Regions from separate parts of the Homo sapiens genome. Here region 2 is linked to region 1. Evidence: fine-mapped QTL for protein levels in blood plasma. A gene starts in region 1. The other region holds a variant in brackets. All regions are shown on one strand. Distances are between the middles of the regions. Region 1 holds the start of LYPD8 (LY6/PLAUR domain containing 8). Region 2 holds the start of LOC124904577 (a long non-coding RNA gene).

Evidence for each region. PIP is the chance, under the fine-mapping model, that this variant and not a neighbour inherited with it causes the effect. Protein levels are from antibody-based Olink assays in UK Biobank. Linkage for the fine-mapping came from a reference panel and not from the study's own genotypes, which makes the PIPs less certain.
Region 2: its variant is fine-mapped to the plasma level of the LYPD8 protein (UK Biobank, PIP above 0.99).

Annotation. Positions count from the first base shown.
Region 1 is chr1:248,755,123-248,763,343 of GRCh38, reverse strand. LYPD8 (LY6/PLAUR domain containing 8) reads left to right here and starts at 7,585. Exons shown (of 7, transcript NM_001085474.2): 1 at 7,585-7,639; 2 at 7,958-8,105.
Region 2 is chr1:248,803,811-248,812,213 of GRCh38, reverse strand. It overlaps SH3BP5L (SH3 binding domain protein 5 like), which reads left to right. Exons shown (of 7, transcript NM_030645.3): 7 at 1-1,768. The coding sequence ends at 314. LOC124904577 (a long non-coding RNA gene) reads left to right here and starts at 4,696. Exons shown (of 2, transcript XR_007067008.1): 1 at 4,696-5,165. RefSeq lists enhancers at 6,752-6,961, 8,370-8,403. The variant C/T (reference allele first, on the strand shown) is at 4,956.

The sequences.
Region 1 (8,221 bases):
ACAACTTTGGTGAATCTGACAATTATGTGTCTTGGAGTTGCTCTTCTCGAGGAGTATCTTTGTGGCATTCTCTGTATTTCCTGAATCTGAATGTTGGCCTGCTTTGCTAGATTGGGGAAGTTCTCCTGGATAATAACCTGCATAGTGTTTTCCAACTTGGTTCCATTCTCCCCGTCACTTTCAGGTACACTAATCAGACGTAGATTTGGTCTTTTCACATAGTCCCATATTTCTTGGAGGCTTTGTTCATTTCTTTTTATTCTTTTTTCTCTAAACTTCCTTTCTCACTTCATTTCATTCATTTCATCTTCCATCACTGATATCCTTTCTCCCAGTTGATCGCATCGGCTCCTGAGGCTTCTGCATTCTTCACGTAGTTCTCAAGCCTTGGCTTTCAGCTCCATCAGCTCCTTTAAGGACTTCTCTGTATTGGTTATTCTAGTTATACATTTGTCTAAATTTTTTTCAAAGTTTTCAACTTCTTTGCCTTTGGTTTGAATTTCCTCCTGTAGCTCGGAGTAATTTGATTGTCTGAAGCCTTCTTCTCTCAACTCGTCAAAGTCATTCTCCGTCCAGCTTTGTTCCATTGCTGGTGAGGAACTGCGTTCCTTTGGAGGAGGAGAGGTGCTCTGCTTTTTAGAGTTTCCAGTTTTTCTGCTCTGTTTTTTCCCCATCTTTGTGGTTTTATCTACTTTTGGTCTTTGATGATGGTGATGTACAGATGGGTTTTTGGTGTGGATTTCCTTTCTGTTTGTTAGTTTTCCTTCTAACAGACAGGACCCTCAGCTGCAGGTCTGTTGGAGTTTGCTAGAGGTCCACTCCAGACCCTGTTTGCCTGGGTATCAGCAGCGGTGTCTGCAGAACCGCGGATTTTCGTGATCCGTGAATGCTGCTGTCTGATCGTTCCTCGGGAAGTTTTGTCTCAGAGGAGTACCCGGCCGTGTGAGGTGTCAGTCTGCCCCCACTGAGGGGTGCCTCCCAGTTAGGCTGCTCAAGGGTCAGGGGTCAGGGACCCACTTGAGGAGGCAGTCTGCCCGTTCTCAGATCTCCAGCTGTGTGCTGGGAGAACCACTGCTCTCCTCAAAGCTGTCAGACAGGGACATTTAAGCCTGCAGAGGTTACTGCTGTCTTTTTGTTTGTCTGTGCCCTGCCCCCAGAGGTGGAGCCTACAGAGGCAGGCAGGCCTCCTTGAGCTGTGGTGGGCTCCACACAGTTCGAGCTTCCGGCTGCTTTCTTTATCTAAGCAAGCCTGGGCAATGGTGGGCGCCCCTCCCCCAGCCTTGCTGCCACCTTGCAGTTTGATCTCAGACTGCTGTGCTAGCAATCAGTGAGACTCTGTGGGCGTAGGACCCTCTGAGCCAGGTGCGGGATATAATCTCCTGGTGCACCATTTCCTAAGCCTGTCAGAAAAGCGCAGTATTCGGGTGGGAGTGGCCCGATTTTCCAGGTGCCGTCTGTCATCCCTTTCCTTGACCAGGAAAGGGAACTCCCTGATCCCTTGTGCTTCCCGAGTGAGGCAATGCCTCGCCCTGCTTCGGCTCACGCATGGTGCGCTGCACCCACTGTCCTGCGCCCACTGTCTGGCACTCCCTAGTGAGATGAACCCGGTACCTCAGATGGAAATGCAGAAATCACCCGTCTTCTGTGTCGCTCACGCTGGGAGCTGTAGACCGGAGCTGTTCCTATTCGGCCATCTTGGCTCGGTAGTCGACTTACATATGTTAAACCATCCCTGCATCCATGGTATGGAACCCACTTGATCATGATGGATTATCTTTTTGATTTGCTGTTGGATTTGCTTAGCTAGTATTTTGTTGAGGATTTTTGCATTTATATTCATCAGGGATATTGGTCTGTAGTTTTCTTTTTCGGTTACATCCTTTACTGGTTTTGGTATTAGGGTGATACTGGATTCATAGAATGATTTAGGGAGGATTCCGTCTTTCTCTACTTTTTGTAATAGTGTCAATAAGATTGGTACCAATTATTTATTTATTTATTTGAGAGGGCGTCTTGCTCTGTCACCCAGGCTGGAGTGCAGTGGCGTGATCTTGGCTCACTGCAACCTCCACCCCCTGGGTTCAAGCAATTCTCTTGCCTCAGCCTCCCTAGTAGCTGGAATTACAGGTGTGCGCTATCATGCCTGGCTAATTTTTGTACTTTTAGTAGAGATGGGGTTTCACCATGTTGGCCAGGCTGGTCTTGAACTCCTGGCCTCAAGTGATCCGCCCACCTCGGCCTCCCAAAGTGCTGGGATTACAGGCATGAGCCACTGTGCCTACCTCTTCTTTTAATGTCTGATAGCATTTAGCTGTGAGTTTGTCTGGTCCTGGACTTCTTTTTATTGGCAACTTTTTAAAAAATTTACCATTTCAATCTCTCTGCTTGTTATTGGTCTGTTCAAATATTTTCTTTCTTTCTGGTTTAATCTAGGAGGGTTGTATATTTCCAGGAATTTATTTATCTCCTCTAGGTTTTCTAGTTTATGCATGTAAAGATGTTCATAGTAGCCTTGAATGGTCTTTTGTATTTCTGTGGTGTCGGTTGTGATATCTCCTGTTTTGTTCTAATTGAGCTGATTTAGATCCCCTCTTTTCTTTTTTTGGTTAGTCTCACTGGTGGTCTATCAATTTCATTTATCTTTTCAAAGAACCAGCTTTTCGTTTCACCTATCTTGCTACCAAATTGGCATATAAGTAAACAAGTACTCACAAATTAAGTCTAAATGGTTTTCAAGTTCATGTGAATCTTTGACAAATAAAACTGGCTTCAAAAATTATTAGTAAAATAATAAAAATGTCTTTAGAGTCATCAGCATACATTTCTGTCTAAATAAATTTTATATTGACCTCTGTGGTTATTAGGGAAATAACTTTAAATAATGACTAACTTTATATAATACCTTGGTTTTCAAGAGTAATCTAAATTGTTAAAAAATAAATTAATTAAATACATATACATGAGATAAATACCTATAAGTGGACTTTTTGTGTAATGTAAAATCTTAACATTATTTTAAATTAAATAACAAATGCTTATTGAATGTCTGGGTCATTTCCAATGTAAATAATTATTATATGAGAAAACATGGTTCTGAAATAGTGAAATAATTTTATCTATAAAATGCTAACATCTGACATACAGTTCAGATTTCTTGCTTCCCATTTTCACTAAAATTTAAGATTACTAGAAATAAAAATTCTAATTAATATATAATTCTGTAAATTGCATTTTATAAAAAATAATTTTGTGTAATTTGGAAGCCATTTTAAAATCATTTACTTGAAAAGGCAAAAAGAAACCAGAAGTGGGGAAGAGAGATGTGAAGAAAGTTATGGTATAAAGTTGCACCCGTAACTTTCACATATATATATATATATACTCGTAAATTAAGTCTAATAATACTGCTATGATTATTCATGTACAAGTTTTTGTATAAACAGTTGTTTTCATTCAATTATATTGGGTATATACCTAGGTGTGGAATTGCTGTGTCATGGGTAACTCTCTTAGAGGAACTGCCAAACTCTTTCCACAGTGGCTGCACCATTTTACATTCCTACCAGTAGTGTATGAAGGTTCCAATTTCTCCATATCCTTCCTAATGCTCGCAATTTTCCTTGCTTCCTTCTCTTTCTTTCTTTCTTTCTTTCTCTGTCTCTTTTTCTTTCTTTCTTTTTGATTTTATTTGTGTTAGTGGGCATGAAGTAGTATCTAATTGTGGTAGAAGTGTGTTCTGAGGCTGGACCTCACCTCAGACCATTGCCCTGTGCAGATGCGAATGTCCCTCTGGGCTGTGCAGTTGCCGATATGAGCTCAGAGAACAATGATAGCAGTAGTAGCCATTGTTTTTAGAGCCCTTTATGAAGTGATAGTTTCATCATCATTGTCGGCTTGTGCGACCTCCTTTGACCCTCAGAATAGCTACTCAGGCCGTAGTGCTGTTTTTGCCACTTGAAAGATGGGAAACCCAAGACTCGGGGGGATCATCATCTTACATAAGGCCATGGACTATTGGGGAAGTTTATCTTCCAGGATATGCTCATTTCCTCTGCAAGGTGACTGGGGGGCAGGAATGTTGGGGGCAATAATTCATTATTTTTAGCCTATTCTCACATCTCCAAGCGGGAGGAATGAGCTAGTCAATGAAAGGCTCCCAGAAGCAAACACAGAGAGAAGGCGGGTCAGGGGTGGATGCTCTTGATCCTTTTGCTGAGTCTTTGGCTTAGACTCCTGTTGGATATAATTCCTGCCCCAGCTTCCCTGACCTGACCCTACACACCTCCACATGCTTATTCCAAAATGGGGTAGGCTCCCCTGGAAACTCACCTCCAAGCTTTGCTGGTCATCAAGGGAAGCTTTGGGAAAAGGCCGTTTCCTAAAGTGGTTCCAGATTTACCACCGGATGACTCACTGGGACTCAGCTGAGCTCCAGGTTTGCCTCAGCTCAGCAGGCTGTAGGGACAGCCAACCTTGTCCCCTTCTAAGAAGATGATGGAACTAGGGTGCCTACGGTGTGCCCAGGGCTTCTTAGTTTAAAAGTTGGGCTGCTTGTTGCGACTTAGCTTCTCCTGGGTCTCTGGACTTCTTTGCTAGTCAGGAGGAGTCGGCTTTAGAGAGGTGCTTTTTCATAATTCCCTGTGACTGATTCAGGTCCTTGGACCCCACATTAATGACAGAGAGGTGAACCTCTGGGAGAGGGAGGAGTGGAGTCAAGTCGATGTCTCCAATCCTGCGGGTGGAGGCTGCGTCCCACCTGAGCCATGTTGAAATGGAAAGATTGCTGGCCCAGGCGTCTGAAGGCCTATAGGGAAGGCCTCCCTGGGCCTGTTTCCTTATCTGTCAAGGCAGCTGGGGGTACCCTTGGCGCACTGCCGGGGCTTCAAAAGGATGAACCCAGGACTGCTGTGAGCAGCCGTATAGACTGCGCAGCCTAGTTCAGGGGGCTTCCATTGTCTTCAGTGTCCTTACTGATAAATGGCTCAGTTAAAATCATACGTGCTATTAATAATAATTCCCACATGGTTAGACGTCCTCAGGACATTATTGATAGATAGATGGCCTTGGAAAAACACAGAGGAATGGGGTGATGATTCCAGGAGTAAATAAATCATCAGGAGGCATTTCTTCAGGGCCTGATGATTCCATTTTAAAGACAAAGAGCTCTGGCCCAACAAGTGCGGTTAATAAGTAACTTATGTGATGTGAGGGACAAAGTCTGGATTCAGACTCAGATCTTTGTGGTCGCTTTGGGTCCATTTGCCTGAGTATCTGGTGCCTTCTGAGAGGAATTAACATTGATCAGCCCGATTTTCTCATGCCAGTACTCAGCCTGACACCAGAGCTGTTATCTCAGAGGCAGTGTTCATGAGCTCTTTGGATCCTCCATCGGTGGCTCAGGGAGGCCACATTCCTGAAACCCGCAAGCCCACACACACCCCATTGGATATTACTGTGCCACTTCTCTTGTTGTGCCCTGCCAGGTGACTGACTAATGTGTGCTGGGAAACAATATGGTTCTGTTAGGGAGGAAGCTGCTTTTTTTTTTTTTTAGGAAAATGCTGTGATAAGCAGCCTGAAGGCAGATGGTGAGGAGAGGAGAGAATAAGAGATGGCCAGAGTCTCTGCTTATAAAAATAACTCAGATTTTGTCTTCTCCATGAGACCTACTACAACCTCCTCATTGAAAGTGGAAGCCTGCACCTGCTCACCCCCTAGCATGGTTGATGACTTATCCTACTCTTTGTCTTTTTGCCAGAGCAGTCACCACATTCTGACTTTCCCTGTGATTTGCTTATTTACCACTTTAATTTATGTTGTCTGTAGTCCTCTCTAGACTACACTCCAGGAGGGCAAAGGTCTTTGTCTTTTTGCTCACAAATACCTCCCGGTTTCCTACAGTAGGCCTAAGACAGGGAGGGTGCTCAAAAAATGTTTGTTGAATGAATGCATGAGTTTGGGGAAGGAAGAGAGAGCTGAGACACAGGTAGCGTAGCCATCCCCAAGGGGTATTTTCAAGAGCAGGGAACTGCAAGGTTTAAATGCAGGCTGGGGGATACTGGTATGATGTGTGCCCCTCAACCTCTGCATCCTCGGCTGAGTGGGCTCCTCCCACTCCCCACCGTGTGTGTATAAAGTGTCAGCACAGTGGAAAGATGAGGAGGGAAGATAACTCAAGTCCACACTCAAAACCAGGAGCACCCATGGCACAGTGTGAGGAGACTGGGAGAGTGTGAGGGTTAATATTGAGTGTCAACATGATTGGATTGAAAAGTATTGCAAAGTATTGTTCCTGGATGTGTCTGTGAGGGTGTTGCCAAAGGAGATTAACACTCGAGTCCGTGGACTGGCAGAGGCAGAGCCACCCTCAGTCTGGGTGGGCACCATCTGATCAGCTGCCAGCTCTGCTAGAATATAAAGCAGGCAGAAAAATGTCAAAAGGCTAGACTGGCCTAGCCTCCCAGCCTACATCTGGGTGGACATCATCTAATCAACTGCCAACACAGCTAGGATAAAAGCAGGCAGCAGAACGAGGAAGGACCAGACTGGCTGAGTCTCCCAGTCTCCATCTTTCTCCCATGCTGGATGCTTCCTTCCCTCAAACATCGGACTCCAAGTTCTTCGGCTTTGGGACTCTTGGGCCTACACCAGTGGTTTGCCAGGGGCTCTCAGGCCATCAGCCACAGACTGAAGGCTGCACTTTTGAGGTTTTGGGACTCAGACTGGCTTCCTTGGTCTTCAGGTCACAGACAGCCTATTGTGGGACTTCACCCTGTGATCATGTGAGTCAATACTCCTTAATGAACTCCCCTTCATACATATATAAACTCACCTTCTCTAGAGGACAGAGAACCTGACTAATACAGAGAGGCCTCAGTTGACCTGACCTGGGCTGTTACCAGTAGCTGCTCAGATCACTTGGCCAGAAAGACTCTCTCGATGGCTGCTGTGGGCTCTCACCCAGTGTGCAGAGCACACTGCAGGCAGGGGCTTCACGTCATGGTCCCTCTACCACACTATGAGGCTGCACAGTGAGTTTACACTCATCTTGGTTGGAGGACCCTCAAATCTAACAAGGTTAAGACACTTGCCTGTGGGAAACTGAGGCCCTTTCCTGAGTTGCACAGACCCCACATAGTCTGATTCGGAGCTCTGAGTTCTGACTGTGCCCCGGCTGTGTGCCCATGAGCATATCTCTTATGGCTCTCTTTCTGTGCTTTGGTTTTCTCATCTATAAATGGGCTAATCATGGTGACTGTTAGCAGGTTGTTAGGTGCTTGTCATTAGCAGGTCATGGAATTGACTTAGAAGGCCACAGACAATGCTGGAAGATACCTTACTCCTGTTTACATTTTGCCAAAGGCAGGCCTTGACCAAAGTTGTTCCCAATTCCTAGAGGTCTCAGAGAGGGCACGAGCTGCACAGATGCCAAAGGGTTGGGCAGCCTGTAGCTCTATTGGGCAGGGCACAGTCTGAGAGCCAGAAGCCTTAGCCTGTCTGACCCAGAGGTCCCACCCCAGAAGACAGCTGTGCTTTTTGATTTTACAGCCACCTGCTATATAAGGCCTCTCCCATACCAGCCCTAAGCCTCTACTGGGAACCACCTTCTGTAGGACAGTCACCAGGCCAGATCCAGAAGGTGAGAGGACTGCGAGGCCGGGGCCTGAGCCCTGGGAGAAGCTGAAACCGCAGGAAGGGCATTCAGGACCAGCTCAGGTCCTTCCCCGGCCAAGTCCAGGACATTCTTGCGGCTCTTGCTCCTTTGGCATTGCCCTAGGCAGTCGTATGCTCAGGAGAGGGAAGTCTGGAGTTCAGGGAGGATGTGGGCTGGGGATGTAGTTTTCTTGTTGTTTTGCCATCTGCTACTGTGTGTGTGGTTTGTGTGTAGTGTGTGCGTGTTCTGTGCATCATTCTGTGTGTGACATTCTTCATTCTGTGTGGTTTTGTGTCCTCACAGCCTCTCTAGGCTCCAGCTTTCTCTGTGGAAGATGACAGCAATTATAGCAGGACCCTGCCAGGCTGTCGAAAAGATTCCGCAATAAAACTTTGCCAGTGGGAAGTACCTAGTGAAACGGCCTAAGATGCCACTTCTTCTCATGTCCCAGGTGGGGGCCCTGCCTTGAGCCCCAGCTTCACTGGTCCCTCTTACCCACAGAGGTGTTGAGCACGGCCCTGGGTCCTGCTATGGGGTCACTCCCAGGCTCTGTTTCTCTGCTAGGTG
Region 2 (8,403 bases), 49 kb before region 1:
CCCCCGTGGGGGCCGAGGCAGGACCCGAGGACATGGAGGACGGAGACAGCGGGATTGAGGGGGCCGAGGGTGCGGGGCTGGAGGAGGGCAGCAGCCTGGGGCCCGGCCCCGCCCCCGACACCGATACCCTGAGTCTGCTGAGCCTGCGCACGGTGGCTTCAGACCTGCAGAAGTGCGACTCCGTGGAGCACTTGCGAGGCCTCTCGGACCACGTCAGTCTGGACGGCCAAGAGCTGGGAACGCGGAGTGGAGGGCGCCGGGGCAGCGACGGCGGAGCCCGTGGGGGTCGGCACCAGCGCAGCGTCAGCCTGTAGCCGAGGGGCCAGGGTTCCTGGCTTGAATCTGCCACCACGGGCCGGTTGGGGCCCACAGTCTTCTCACGCCCTCTCCTCTGGGGCCTCGTCTTCCCGAAGGTCCCCTTCTCCAGTGCTTCCCTGGGAGAGGCCAGCTGTGTTCGAGTCCTCTGTGCCTGCCCTGGCGTTCTCACAGCCTCCCCCTTCCCCTCAGCAGGCGGCTCTCTTTGCCTTACCCATTCAGAAGGCTCGCCCTCGGCGCTCTGTCTGCCTCTGCCTGCCAGCTCATCACGATCTGCAGGGCATTGACCCTTTGCTTTCCCTTTCTGCTCCCTCTCTTTCCATCTGTTTGGCTTTTTCCCTCAGGGAACTTGGTCTAGAAGGCACTGGGAAGCTCATCAGAGAAAATGGGTGCTGGGCCTGAGTACTCCCGTCGGAGGGGATGGACAGTCACCCCTCCCGTTGGTTTCCAGCCCCGCCCCCCTTCCCAAGGCAACTCTGGAGGGTACCCTAGGTATGCTGCTGAGCCCTGCCCCCCGTCCTGCTCCAGCCTGCCCGTGTGTAACCTGTAAGATGTACTGTGTGCCTCCGGAAGACACCACCTTTCCCTTCAGCATTCCCTTTCATGACCTGAGGCACTCTGCGATGTGTGCCCCAAAGCAGAACTTACAGGGCCTGCAGGAAGCTGGTGTCAGGGAGAGAAACCCAACCCCACTGTCAACATAGGGAGCATCACCAACTCCAGACTGGCTCCTGTGGGTATGGTGTTTCCGCTGGGCTGGGTCCTCAACATTGCCAAGGTGCTAGTGGGTCCCTAAGAGGGCCCATGTTGGGGGTGAAGTCATGAGGTCCTGAAGGCTTAGGCCCCTGTCATTCCCACCCTCACTCTTGCTGCACAGTTGTGTTTACTTTTTCTGGGTAGAGGATGCTGAACTGACTCAGCACCCTCCTGCAGGACGGGGTTAGGGAATTTGGTGCTCAATTGCTCTCCCTTGCTCTTCCCCAAACTGAAAATACCTACTGCAGGATCCCTCGGGGCACACTGAAGCTTGGCTGCCAACCCTCTTACTTCCTTTGTTACAGGGAGGGGTTGGCTTGGGGTGAAAAGTTCTGCCCTCCGCAGGGAGCAGCTCCAGCTGCCTGGCAGTGCTCCCAGTTTGTAGGGAAGCCACACCAGATCTGGGTGCCTTGGGAGAACCAGTCCTTCCTTTTGACCCACCCCAGGAAGATGGAGTGCTCTTTTCTAGGCCCATGTTCTGCCAGCAACCGGGATGCGTGGGCAACTGGACTCTGCACGGGGGTCTACAGGTTGAGGGAGGTTGGTCACAATGAGAACCTCGGGGTTTGAGGTGGCCATGGGCAGACAGCCGAAAGGGAGGGAGGGTGTGGGTGTGCGTGTGTGCATGTGCTGGTGTGTAAGGGGGAAAGGGTCTTTCCTGGTTTTATTTAAATAAAGTAGTTTATGTAACAGTTAACATCTACTGTCCTTGCTGGAGGAAGAGAAAAGGGGCAAAGATGAGGCAAGGGTTGGGCAAGGGAAGAGCAGGGTTAGGCGGCAGGCTTTTTAGATGGTGTGGTCAGGGAAGGGAGGTGAAGGACCAGATTGAGTGAGCTGCGCTATGCATGCTCTTGCGGGGGTGGAAGGCCCCATGGCCAGGGTGGTCATGTACAGGGCAAGTGTAGAGAAGCAGGGGAGGAGTTGGTGCCTCATGGGGCCATGCTGTGTGAGGTGATGGGTGCCAGGAGAGGGTTTGGTAGAAAGGGGCCTGCGGGGTGGAGTGGGCTCTGTCTGAGCTAAGAGATGAGAGTGCCAGAGGGTTGGGATCTTAGATGTGTCTGGATGTGAGCATGAATGTAGAGAAGGGACACAAGTAGTGATGCCAGATTTATCAATACAGTGAACCCACTGAAATTTCAGATAGGCAGTATTTTTGTCTGCTGCAGTGTTTAGGATGTACTTACATTATGAATTATCCGTTGTTTCTCTGAAATTAAAACCTAGATAAAAGGTGACTTCCAAGTCAGGGCTTGACTGGCTGGGGGATGGGAGGGGTTTGAGGGCACTTGAACTCACAGGTGGGAGATTGGATAGGGATGTGAACTCCAGGAGCTTTGAAGAAGAGCAAAAGGCTTTGTTTAGCCTGAGCTGCACTTGGAGTGTACCAGTATTTGGAGTTTTGTTGAGAAGAGGTCAGCCAAGGGAAGAAGAAGGTGCTGGCAGGGAGGAAGACCAGAAACCTTGGGGTCAAGGGGCAGGGTGAAGGCCAAGAATTGGAGGCACGCAATCAGAGCAGTGACCCTGGTGGCTGTGGACGCCATCTGAGGGGCCATCTGGGGCCGCTATGTGCTGAGCACTCACTGTGCCTTTGGATGGGTGCTGTCCAGGAGTTTGAGATTGCCTTCCCTGACTTGGCAGATGGGTGTCATAATATTTTATTACTAGAAAAGCTGCTATGAAAATGCATAGCATATGTTTTTGGGTGAGTGGGCTTTTTAAATTTTTTAAATTGTATGTATAGGAGGTGAACAACATGGTATTTTGATGCACATAATGAAATAGGTATCAAATTGGCCTATCATTTTGCAGTTACCTCCCCCCTTTTTTGTTGTGAAACCGCCTAAAATCTACTCTCAGCAAATTTTCAGTCTATAATACAGTATTATAGTCCTAATGAAGGGCTTTCTGAGATGACACACAGTGCTGGACTTCCCTACCCAGTCACTGGCAGGCAGGACCTGTGAGGCTCCTGGTACAGAAGAGCCCTAGAAAAGAAGGGCTATGCCATGCACGTGCGTTTCTCCTTGCAAAATCACCTAGAAGATGCGGCAGGCGGGAAGAGAGACCAGGAAGGTTAGAGCCAATGGTACTTCTAAGGAGAAGAAGACAGAAGCCGAAGAGCTCCCTCCCTCCCACCCTCGTTGTAGTAACTTGTACTCATCCAGTGCATTTCACGTACCAGGAACGCCCCTAATTAATCTCTACAACAATGTTATAGGACAGATAAACACTATGATTTCCTTTCCACGGTAAGAAAATAAGGCACAATGGGGGGTACTCAGCCTTGCTGAAGGTAACGGAGGCGGCTCCCACTAGGCACTTGGACTCTAGAGTCCAAACGCTTGAACCACTGGGCTCACAGGAACAGGAGGTGAGGAAGTGGAGGTAGTCATCTCCGAGGAAGTTTTGCTGGGAAGAAGAGATGAGAAGTGGGAATACTGTTTCTTAGCTCCTTCTCCCAGCAAAGAGGGTCGAGAAATTTTGTTTAAGGTGAGGAAGAGATGGTCAAGGTGTGGGGGACATAGGGCCCCATCCCCCATTCCTGTACTGTGTCATGTTACATGTTACATTGGCCTGTTGGTAATGAATTGTTCTGATCTTCATCTTCCTCAAGTGTGGGGCTGGGGCCTCAGTCTACCCAACACCTGACACAGGCTCTCACCAACAGATGCTCAGGAAATGTGCTTTTGCTTCTTGCCCCTTCTCTTAGCCCACAGCTGTATCAGGTGGGTTTATCAGTACAGCAGTTTGGAGGTCAGGACCTGGTGATGCACAATCCCAGGATCACATCTCTATGGGAATTCTCAAATTTCATGACGCTTCAATTTTATCGCCTATAAAATGGGAGCATAGAGGCATGTGTGGCATGCTGCTACATCAGTGGATCTGAGGTGCAGCGATTCCTGTTAGCACCTCTTCACAGCCTCGGAGTGCTTAACTCACGGAGGCTTCATCCCATCTTGCGCTAGGCAAGTGGACTCTATGAAAGGGTTGTGTTTCCCTCCTCATCTGGATATGATTTTTGACAAGCATGACAACCCCACTGCCTTTTTAAAAATTTAATTTTTAATATTTATTTTATTATGAGACAGGGTTTTGCGCTGTTGCTCAGACTGGAGTGCAGTGGTGCAATCATAACTCACTGCGGCGTGGGACTCCTGGGCTCGAGCAATCTTTCTGTCTCAGCTTCCCTAGTAGCTACGACCACAGATGCACACCACCATACCCCGCTAATTTTTAACTTAATTTTTTTTTTCTCTGTAGAGATGTATTGCAGTGTTGCCCAAAATGGTTTTGAACTCTTGGACTTAAGCAGTCCTCCCTCCTTGACCTAAAGTGCTGGGATTACAGGCTTGAACCACTGCTCTTTGCCTTTTTTTTTGTTTGTTTTTGTGACACTCGTTCTAGCCCAGGCTGGAGTGCAGTGATGTGATCTTGGCTCACTGCAACCTCGACCTTCTCGGCTCAAGAGATCCTCCCACCTCAGCCTACCAAGTAGCTGGGACTACAGGTGTGTCCCACCATGCCCAGCTAATTTTTGGATTATTTTGGAGGCGGGGTTTCCCTGTGTTGCCCAGGGTGGTCTTAAACTCCTGGGCTCAAACGATCCCCCTACCTCGGCCTCCCAAATTGCTGGGATTACAGGCATGAGCCACCATGCCTGGTTATGCTTCCAGCCTTTAGACATCTTTTAAAATTGACATATTGTAATTGTACGTATTTGTGGGGTGTGGAATCAACCCATCTGTAGATGCTCCTACTCTGCCTGGCAGGAAGAGCGGAGATGACCTTCTTGGGCTGTCAAGGTCTTGCTGTGTCAGCAGGGGGCAGCAGCTACCAGAAAGTGCGCAGAGCCTGGGCTCTGCATTTCCCTGCGCGCACTG[C/T]GTGTTGACCCTCCAAGCCTGCGTGGTCAGCCTCATGGGCACTTTGCAGAAGGGCCTGAAAAACTGCACATAGAAGGGTGGGGGTGTGTATACATCAGAATGGAACCCTATTTGTACTTGTCATGGGCCTCTTGCATTCCCGTGTGTCCTCGGAATCACCTATTGCGTGTGAGAGCTGGCTCAAGTCTGCAGCGCAGCTGGTCTCAGGAGGTAAGATGTTCGATATGTAGATGTACCCTGTTCTCCTCAGAGCTCACCTCCTTCCTTGGCCTCCCTAGTGTCTTTTCCCTCTCCCTTTCCACAGCCTCTTTATAAATTTCTCCACCCACGCCTGCTCACCATTCCTGAGCCCCAGGCTGCAACACATTGCTCATGCCCTGGGATAAGGGAACCAGGAGACCATACACTGGCTGGCAAATGGATATGTGTAGTTTACTAAGAAATGTTCACCAGGATCTTTCAGTGTACAAACACTGTGGTAGGCCTTGTTAGGAACACTATAAACTGTAATGCCATGGGTGGGTCTTCCAGGTAAGGAATGCAGGTGTGCACAGGTGGTGCAGGGCAGTGAAAAATACATAACCAGGCCAGGAGCAATGGCTCACAGCTGTAATCCCAATGCTTTGGAAGGCCAAGGTGGGAGGCTCACTTGAGGACCAAGTTTGAGGCCAGCCTCAGCATCATAGTGAGAACCCGACTCTACAAAAAGTAAAAAAATTAGCAATGCGTGATGGCATGCACCTGTAGTCCTAGCTACTCCTGAGGCTAGTGGGAGGATCTCCTGAGCCCAGGAGTTTGAGGCTGCAGTGAGCTATGATCACACCACTATTTCAGAATGGGTGACAGAGGGACAACCTATTTCTAAAAATAAGTAAATAAATAACTAATGAGGGCTGCAGTCAAGGAAAAATCTGGGAGGTTACAGCTGGGCATTGCTCTCCGAAGCTCTGAACCAGCCCCTTGGTCTCAGACTGGAGAAGTGGTGCCTGGCTCCCAATCCTCACTCTTCCCAAATCTGTCTTGAGCTCCCAGGGCCTGTGTCTCACCCATCTTGGTGTTCTCAGGACCTGGAATGTGGAAATTTTCACCAAACAGCTGTCTACTGACTTACTTCTGCTTGTGCTACCCTTGGCACAAGTTTCCTCCCTTCTCAAACTGTCAAACTGCTGCCTGTGGTTTGAGGACCAGATCATGTGGTCAAAAGTCCACATGAGCTGGGATTCAACCACAGGCACCTCTCTAGCCCAGTCTGAATTAATCCTTATCACTCTCAAGTTCCCCATGGCTCTTTTGACTTACTGAAGAATGGGCCGGTTGTTGTAGACATGTCTCTTGTTGGTCCTAAGTCCTCAGAAGAAGGGGTCAGTATCATCCTTGACTCCATCTCACTCAACACATAACACAATAGACATATGTACAGGGACCATACGTGATGCATAGTCTAAATTGGGACAGCTGAGTGTGAAAGGGGGCAGGTGTGGCCTGGGACTGACTTGGGTGATCTAGGACATATGGTCACCCTCATTCTAGGTGCTCAGTAAACATTAGTTCTTTTGAGAGCTTCGGTGTTAAAAACACTGACCACACTATTCAGAGAGGGTTGCCCTTGGCCTGCCCCTGCCACAAGGGGTTATGTGCACAGGGACAATTCACTCAGCTCCTCTGGGCCTCAGTGTTCCAATCTGCCGGAAGTGTGGACAGACTCAGTAGATAACCTCTAAGGTTATCTAAAGCACTAAAATTATACAGCTGGCAGTGGAGGCTGGGCCATGCGAAGAGTTCTGATGGATGATGTGAAATGGTGCATGTGTTTGCAGACAGGGTTAGGGGTTGGAGCATGAGAAACCTGAGCAAGTCCAGAGTTGGTTAGGACCCAGCCCGGAGGGAGCAGAGGGCTGCTGGATATTTCTGCTTGGGTGTGAGATGATCATCGTCCAGAGGTCGAAGAGCTCAGAGTGCTGGGCAGTAGTTTCTCTTTCTCCAGGCAGGCAGGTGGCTTTCACTGCACAGTGCAGATACGCTTCTTGATTTATTCAAACATAGGAGGAAGGGAGTGTCAAAATGAGTTTCTTCCCCATTTAGAAAAGAGGAACCTTCTTGGTCTAGGGTAGAGTGGAGCAGCAGAGCTGCCTTCTTCCTCAGCTGCGGCTTCATCTTCCATGCTCCTTCCAGGCCACCCCATCCTGTTTCGTCTCTATGATTTCTGCAATAACATGCAGAAGAGCTGGATCATCTTCACACTGACACAAGGAAATCTCAGTTGTGCCACGGCCTGCTTTTTTCCAGCAGGAATTCTTAAGGGCCTGGGGGCCTGGGGCAGCAGTGAAGGCTGGAGGAGGCTCATGGAGCTGTACAGGTTCGCAGGGGCTGCTGTGGTTTAGGGAAGAAGGAGAGGATGTTGCTTAATGTCACCTGCCTTGTGTGCTAACCTCAGTGTTGCTATGGTTTCAGCCTCCCACTCCACTTGGAGAGAGAGGCCAGGAGCCCACCTGCCTCTGCAGCCCACCTGCCTCTGCAGCCCAGGGTGGGAATGTAACCGTTGCTGCTGTACTCACATCTGACCTTCCTTCAGCTGATCTTCGCCCCTTTTACCAGATCTCCTCTTTCACTTTACAATTTCAGAAGCCTCAGATTACAATCCTCTCCATTCCCTCAAACAGTTGCATCTGGCAATAGTGACCATGGCTGCCCCATTGGAAGGGACTGTTAACAGAAAAGGGCATGAGGCCTTAGGAGGAGGGGAGCTACGTCTTCATAACACTAACAAAAACAAACCCGAGGTTAAATAAAGTGAACCAGGTATTTAGTTCACCTGCCACCTGGGATATACTTTTTAATTTTTTCTGGGTTGGTTAAAAATATATTTAGGGCCGGGCACGGTGGCTCACGCCTGTAATCCCAGCACTTTGGGAGGCTGAGGCGGGCGGATTACCTGAGCTCAGGAGTTGGCAACCAGCCTGGGCAACATGGCGAAACCCCTTCTCCACTAAAATACAAGAAATTAGCCGGGCTTGGTGGCGTCCACCTGTAGCCCCAGCTACTCAGGAGGCTGAGGGAGGAGAATGGCGTGAACCTGGGAGGCGGAGCTTGCAGTGAGCTGAGATCGCGCCACTGCACTCCAGCCTGGGTGACAGAGTGAGACTCCGTCTCAAAAAAAAAAATGTATATACATACATATGTATATATATTTAACGACACTTTCAGAGAGAATGTGACAGAGATAAAAGCTGAATAAGAATGACAGGAAAACTGATCTGGAAGCATAAATGATGAGGATGAGAGAAAACATCTGCAGCTAGACAAACCCAAAAGACTTGGAGAAAGTGACAAAAGTGAAGCAGCAGAGACGAGGAGAGACGTGAAAATACACGCTGGAGGGAGGGACATCAGAGACGAGAAGAGGAAAGCCTCATAGGTGACTGGGACATCAGAGATGAGAAGAGGAAAA